Homo sapiens: one gene and its partner. The protein of the gene in region 2 interacts with the protein of the main gene of each other region in a pairwise test. Each region holds a gene or a part of one and is shown on either strand. Other genes may lie near its edges.

The links.
Region 1: the proteins of ZMYM2 (region 2) and FOXP1 come close enough for resonance energy transfer, tested with the Homo sapiens proteins (2 studies listed by BioGRID).

Annotation. Positions count from the first base shown.
Region 1 is NC_000003.12:71,582,017-71,585,813, forward strand, and holds the start of FOXP1 (forkhead box protein P1), read right to left. Parts: upstream 1,713-3,797; 5' UTR 1,555-1,712; intron 1-1,554. UniProt on the Homo sapiens protein: Transcriptional repressor. Can act with CTBP1 to synergistically repress transcription but CTPBP1 is not essential. Plays an important role in the specification and differentiation of lung epithelium.
Region 2 is NC_000013.11:19,961,727-19,965,326, reverse strand, and holds part of ZMYM2 (zinc finger MYM-type protein 2), read right to left. Parts: intron 108-3,600; coding exon of another isoform or gene 46-107; intron 1-45. UniProt on the Homo sapiens protein: Involved in the negative regulation of transcription.

The DNA of each region.
Region 1 (3,797 bases), on a different chromosome or scaffold from region 2:
TTTGGAGTTACAACTGTTTATTTAGTCCTTATTCTCACAGGGGGCGGGAGCTGCGCGGGAATGGGGGGCTGCAGGCAGCGATTTCGAAGCAAACACATGGGAGGGGGGCATGCGACTTTGTTTCCGGGAGCGGAGCTCCCCAGAGCCCGTGTGTGTCACTGCCAGTCTCCCGGGACCAAGGCGGAGCTCACAACAGGTGGGGAGGGGGGCTCGTCGAGGGCCAAAAAGAAGAAGGAATCTAAGTTTCCGAGCGCGACGTTGTCTGAAAAGGAGGGAGGCGGGAGGCGGGGGCGAGGGAAGGCGGAGGCAGCAAATGACCGCGACCCCGCGGCAACTGGCAAACTCCTCGGCTCCCGGCGCCGCCGCCACCGCCGTGGTCCCCACTCGAAGCGCACGCCGCCTCGGCTCGCTGGCTCCAGGGAGTCGTCTCGGCGGGACAGGAATAGAGCGCAGGGAGCTCGGGAGGAAGGCTGCGCGCAAGCGAGGGACGGAGAGCCATCGGCCGCCAGGACAGGGCCGGAGGGACGAGGCGACACGCGCGCGACGCAGGACAAATCGGAGCTTGGGAAATCTCCCCGTCCCCCAAGCTTCAGAGGGGGGTAAAATCAGAAAATGTGTGTGATGGTGGGAGAGAGATCCGGGCGCGGCGACTCCTCGCAGCGCATCCGGCTCCCGCACCCACCCGTGGATCTGGCCACGGCTGTTGCGGACTCGTCTCGGGAAAGCGGAGGCCGAGCGCGCGTAGGGGTGCGTGTCTGGCTGGGGGTGCGCAGGTGCGTGTTTGAATTTTCCGGGCTCCGAGGGGGTGGCGGGAGAGCTTCCTCGCCGCTGACTCTCGGGGTAACGCGCGCGTGGCAGCGGGGAAGTTCCCCAGTGCGGGGCCCAGGGCCAGGCACCACAGTCAGTTTGCTGGGGCCCGCGGGGCAGCTCAAGGGCACCGAGGGGGCACACACCCGCGGGGAAAGAAGGGGAAAAGTTTGCTCCAAGTCTAAACTTTGGGCCTAGGAGGCGCCCGGCGCGCGCCCCCTCCCGCCGCGGCCAGGACCCGGGACCCCGCACCGGCCCCGCGCCCGGGCGGCCACCGGACGCCAACGCCGGACATCGAAAGTTGCGCCAGGCGGCCTGGGCTTATTGATTTCTCTCCCCTAGGCGATCGTGGAGAGCGCAGAGAGAGGCGTGAAGGGGCCTACGGGCAGGCGATCTCGCCTCCTCACAGTCGCCACCGCCCCCGCCCCCATTTGACTTATGCAAATAAACCCAAAGGGTGCGGGCGCCGCCGGAGCTCCCTCCACCCGCGCGCCGGCCCGCAGCCCCCACCCATCCCAGAGCTGGGCCTCGACCCGGGGGGGAGAGGAAGAGAGGGGAGGGCTGGGGGAGATGCACGTGGAGCCTGGAGGTGGAAAGTAGTTGTTTTTTTTTTTCCATTTTTTTTCTCTTTTTCTTTCTTTCTTTTTTTTTTTTTGTGCTGGTTGTTGTTGTTGTTTAAAGTGGCGGAAACAAGACAGGAGGCGGCTTGGGAAAAAGTGGAGCAGAAATGGAAAAATACAAACTCACCCGCTGCAAATGGTCTCTCGGTGCAAACTAAGGTGTTTTCGGGCCTTTCCCCGCGCGCGCCCACTCCCGCCCGCGCGCGCACCCCGCGCACACACTCACTCGCGCACACACGCGCGCACACACGCACTCCCGGGCGAGGGCCGGGCCGCCGCGAGTACAGCGTGCAACCGCCACACAATAAATAACAATAGATTCCTCCGCTCCGGACTAGCTTCCCGGAGCCCAGCCAGCGCCGGTGGCGGCGGCGGCGGCGGCAGAGGCGCGGGCAGCACCGGCCCGGGGGCGCACCCCGGCCCGACCCTCTACCTCCCGCAGGGGTCCCCTCTCCGCTTCACGCACCCCGCTGGGCACTCCAGCGGCCCCCCGAGCGGGAGCGGCTCCCTCTTTGCCGTTCGCCGGGGCGCTGGCGCCCACCCCCCTCCTCCCTCCCCCCTCCCCCCCGACATCCCGGAACAAATAAATAAATAAGGCGCGCGAGAGAGGCCAACACGTCGCGGAGGGAGATGTTGTTATTTTTTGCTGTTGTGCGTCCCTGACGTCACATCCACCTGCTGGGTAAACAACCGGGCTCCCAGAAAAAAAAAATCGCAATTGCCAAAGAATGGGGGGGGGGGTTGGGGGGAGGGATCCAGGGAGGGGGAAGTGAGGGGCGTCCAGGCAGGATTGGAAAGAGGAGAGGGAGGCAGAGCCCCGCGGACCAGAGAGAGGAAGGGAACGCCAGAGCAGTCCCTGGCAACAGAGGGATCTGGCAGGAAAGACCTGGAAAATAAGGGGCAGGGGGGCGGAGGGGGAGATTCCTCAGGAGATGGGAAATGGGGGGCCCATTCAGACAGCGGAAAAAACGAGAAGGGAGAGTGTTAACTAGGGACGAAGATGGGAATGCGATGGCTATTTGCTTGGATTCTGAGCTAAAAATATGAAAGGGAGGGGAGAGGACAGGCTAGAATGTGAGTTTCCTCCAGTTAAAAGTGAAAGTGTTTTGCCATCAGTGACAGTTGAAGGAGAGCGGGGTGGGAGGTGGTGTTTTCAACCCCCTTTCTCCCTCTCTCCCGTCCTCCCTCGGTCTCTCCTCTTTCTTTCTGCACTTTGTCCAATGAAAGAAGGCGAGTTCGGGAGGTGAAAGTTCAGCAGAAGGACAAACCCCTGTTTGCAAGGAAACAGAAACCCCGCCAGCCAGCGAGGGGTTTTCTCCCCTGTTTCTCGGAATCAGGAGAGTGTGAATGTGGGACGAGCTTCTGCCCCCTTGTCAGAGCCACTGCAGGAATGTGCAATCGAGTCCACTTTGGGGGAAGGTGGCTGCATCAGGAACTGTGTTCTTGCCACGACTCCTCTTAGGAAAACGCCTGGGGGCTAGCATGTCAGTCCGTTGTTTAACACAAATTACCTGCTCTCCCAGTGATCAGTCACGTGCAAAAAGCTTTGTCCAATTCTTTGAAAAGGTGAGATTTTTTTTTTTCTTTTTGCGGTTTTTGAAGTTTGGTTGAATTTAGAAATTCGAAGGAATAAACTAAGAGCCTGAATTAAATGTTTTGAAATATACATACATAAAACAAAAGACACTAGTATTTCTTTCACTTTTATCAATACGCATAGAGAAGGAAGCAGAGTATGTGTTTCCAAAACGTGACTTGGAAAGCTGTAAGACCTCTATGTCTTGTTGTTGTTGTTGTTGTTGTTGTTAACAGAAGTAAATTTTTTCAGACCCACCACCACAGAAGTGGCCAGACTCCCAAACCAGCATTTCCAGCTACTGGCTGGCTGGTGTACACCAGGCCAATTCTTTATGAGAATATATTAAAAGTCACCCCTGTGGATTCCTACAAAGTACTTCCCCTTGCGGGGAGGGGAGAGGCTTACTGTCCCTTTGGTCTTGAGACCAGCACAGTTGTAGATAATATCCTGAAAAGGTTATTATTAAATTCTTTCGCGTAATGCCCCTTTACAAATATTGTTAAACATTAATTTACAGAAGAACTTAAATCTTAATTTCAAGGGTGGCATAAGACTATCGCTTTGAAATTGTATCTTTCGCAAGTTAAAAAAAAAAAATAACAAAGCCATTCGCTGATGCTACAGAATAAAAGAAAGGGAGGCTGCTAAGGTAATTTCAGCCTGGTAGAATTCACATTGCATGCATGCTGCATAAAGTTCCATGCTATCCAGATAAGACTATTCACTGAATCTTTTAGACTAGAATCTAGACCAATAAAATGCATTTTAGTTTGTATGGAATGTCCTAGCTT
Region 2 (3,600 bases):
TAATGTTAAGTAACAAAACCCAAAAATTTAGTTGTCAATTCTTACACTAGTAAGTCCAGAGATGGTATCCAGGTGACTACGGCAGAGAGTAATATACACATGTATGGCTATAAAGTAAAAAGAATTTGTCTCACTGTATTATAGTCACATTTTACAAACATTATTCTGTCTGCAACTTCTAACTGTGCATCCCAATGTTACTTAGAATAGCTATGTAAGTATTTTTCTTTTTTTTTTTTTATTATACTTTAAGTTTTAGGGTACATGTGCACATTGTGCAGGTTAGTTACATATGTATACATGTGCCATGCTGGTGCGCTGCACCCACTAACTTAAGTATTTTTCTTATCCAACCTAAATGCATGGTTAGAGACAAATAAGTTTAATGCAAGAGTTTTAACAGATCTTTCCCAACATTTGCATATGAAGTTGCAACAATTAGTTATATTCCTAGCAAATTTATCCTGATTACAATTTAACATTAACTTGTAATATAAAAAAACATTTTTATGGATAAATTTTTAAAAACTCTTTAGACTAACTTATAAATTCACAAAAACTAATCTGACCTTGAAATTCACTAGGAACACTTAGAGAGAAAAAAAAAAATCTGGAACCCTCTGAAAAAGAGAGAAAAACCTAATCCTTGGCAGCCTACTGACATTAAAGAGAACGGTCTAAATTAAGAATAAACAAAAACAAGATGATAACTTATACTAATAAAACATAAACGTGCAAAAGTTTTTAAAAACCCAACCTACTGGCTGGGCATGGTGGCTCACGCCTGAAATCCCAACACTTTGGGAGGCCAAGGTGGGAAGATCGCTTGAGTCCAGCAGTTTGAGAGCAGTGTGGACAACAAAGTGGGTCCCTGTCTCTACAAAAAACCGACCTATTAAACATGCATTATCTATTTCTGTGAATAATCACTTTATTTTTTTTTTTATTTTTGAGACGGTCTCTCACTCTATTGCCCAGGCTGGAGTGCAGTGGTGCAATCTTGGCTAACTGCAACCTCCACCTCCCAGTTTCAGGTGATTCTCCTACCTCAGCCTCCTGAGTAGCTGGCATGACGGGTGCCTACCACCATGCCTGACTAATCTTTGTATTTTAGTAGAGACAGGGTTTCACCACATTGGCCAGGCTGGTCTCGAACTCTTGACCTCAGGTGATCCACCCGCCTCAGTCTCCCAAAGCTAAGATTACAGGCGTGAGCCACTGAGCCCGGCCAACCAGTTTACTCTTATGTCATTTCTTGAAATAGCAAACATGAATATTTACAGAACATTAATCAAATCAGTAAAACTAAAACCCAACAGCTATACCCTTCTTTCAAATTAAAGAGCATTGATTTTTCTTAAAATTTATTACTTCTAATTTTCAATGGACTGTTATAAAGTTAAAAATAAAACAGGACTAAGAACAAATCCCAAAGTCATACTAATCAAGTGATTTTGCTAACCTCTCTGCACATCTTTTTAAACTCTTAAAAAGAGTTTAAAAAATGTTTACGAAAATTCATTCTGCAGCTCCACAGAAGTGCTTCAAGTATTGTGTAAAGCTTGATCCAAAAAAAATTAATATATCTTAAATATGCACAAAAACAACAGATATGTTCAAATGTGTTATAATCCAAATTTTAACACATTTTAAAATGACCAACTCATCTTGTTGCCAAGCATTTGGTGATGACCATAAAGACCCTTTTCATATGTCTATTTTAGTAAGAGACATCAAAGACTACGAAGTGATTTGTTTAAAAAACCAGGTTGTAAATATAAAAATGTGCAACTCCAACTACATAAAAAAAAAAATTCTTGCTGGTATACAACCAAAATAAAATATGAAAATAAGCTGCAACTGTTACTCAGATTGCTGCACTCAAATTCATGGATTTATCCAACAGCAATTTTTCTCATTGACAACTTTGTAAGTGTTATATATTGGAGACCTGCATTAGAACTTTTTGATCTGAATACTTCAAAAGTCCTGTTCACTTCTATGCTTTGACAGGAATATAAGAAAATTAACCAACTGAAGTGTTTTTAAAGGAGCAAAACGCAGGGAGTCAAAGCAATTTATTTCTTCCCTAAATTGAAATGCCCTACATAAAATACTATTTGTGAATCCAATGAGAGAAAACACTTGAGTTTGGGCTCTCCTTGCATTCGCTAAAAAAATCACATGCAGGCCGGCACGGTGGCTCACGCCTGTAATCTCAGCACTCTGGAAGGTTGAGGCGGGCAGATCACCGGAGCTCAGGAGTTCGAGACCAGTCTGGCCAACATGGTGAAACCTTGTCTCTACTAAAAATCCCCATCTCTACTAAAAATACAAAACTAGCCAGGTGTAGTGGCACGTGCCTGTAGTCCCAGCTACTTGGGAAGCTGAGGCAGGAGAATGCTTGAACCCTGGAGGCGGAGGCTGCAGTGAGCAGACATCACGCCACTGCACTCCAGCCTGGATGACAGAGACTCTGTCTCAAAAAAAAAAAAAAAAAAATGGCTGGGCAAGGTGGCTTACGCCTGTAATCTCAGCACTTTGGGAGGCTGAGGCAGGCGAATAACTTGAGGCCAGGAGTTCGAGATCAGCCTGACCAACATGGTGAAATCCTGTTTCTACTAAAAATACAAAATTGGTCAGGCACAGTGGCGCATGCCTGTAATCCCAACTACTTGGGAGGCTGAGGCAGGAGAATCACTTGAACCCAGGAGGCAGAGGTTGCAGTGAGCCAAGATCACATCACTGCACTCCAGCCTGGGCAACAAGAGTGAAACTCCATCTCAAAAAAAAAAAAAAAAAAAAAAAAAATATATATATATATATATATCCCATGCAATTTGAATAGCCCAGTCTTCTCATAATCAACGACATTTATTATGATATATATTAATAATATTGTCAAATGGTATAGAGACATATTAATGCTAGAGAGACAGGAAATATAACAATTCTAATTATACCATGCCTTTTGACACCAGGGTTTCAGCATTTCATACCCATTCTTCCCATCACATTAATACCAGAGCATCTGACTGAAGGTAAAGATTCACTTTGTCTCAAATGCATTAATATTAAATTTGTACACTTCTGTACCTCAAACAAGGGCAAAATACAATAAAACTGAAAAAATAAAAACTGTTGTTCAAAGATAATATAAGCTCTATATCCACACAGAAGTTAAAAATGTTCATATGTCAGCATATATGTCATACTTGAGTGATTCAGGATTGTCTCACCACATGAGATACAAAAGCCCAGCCCATGGAAAAGTAGGGACCACTTTATATCTTCCTCCCAACAATTTAAAAGGATAGGTGGGAGGGAACAGATATTAGAAAGGATGCACTAAAGAAATATGCCATAAATATGCAAAGTATTTTTAACTGTCAAAATACTTTGTAAATGGATCTAAAAGCATTTACATATGTTCCTACTGTATAATAAAAGTACTTATTTAGTCAAGGCCAATTAAAAATCATCAGGTTATCTTCATCTTACTGTCTAGCACATAGCAGCATCACTAGTTGCTGTTTTTAAGTAAAGAAATGTTCAACTCTAAGCTAAATCGTTAAGCAAAACAAGAACCATTCTGGTATT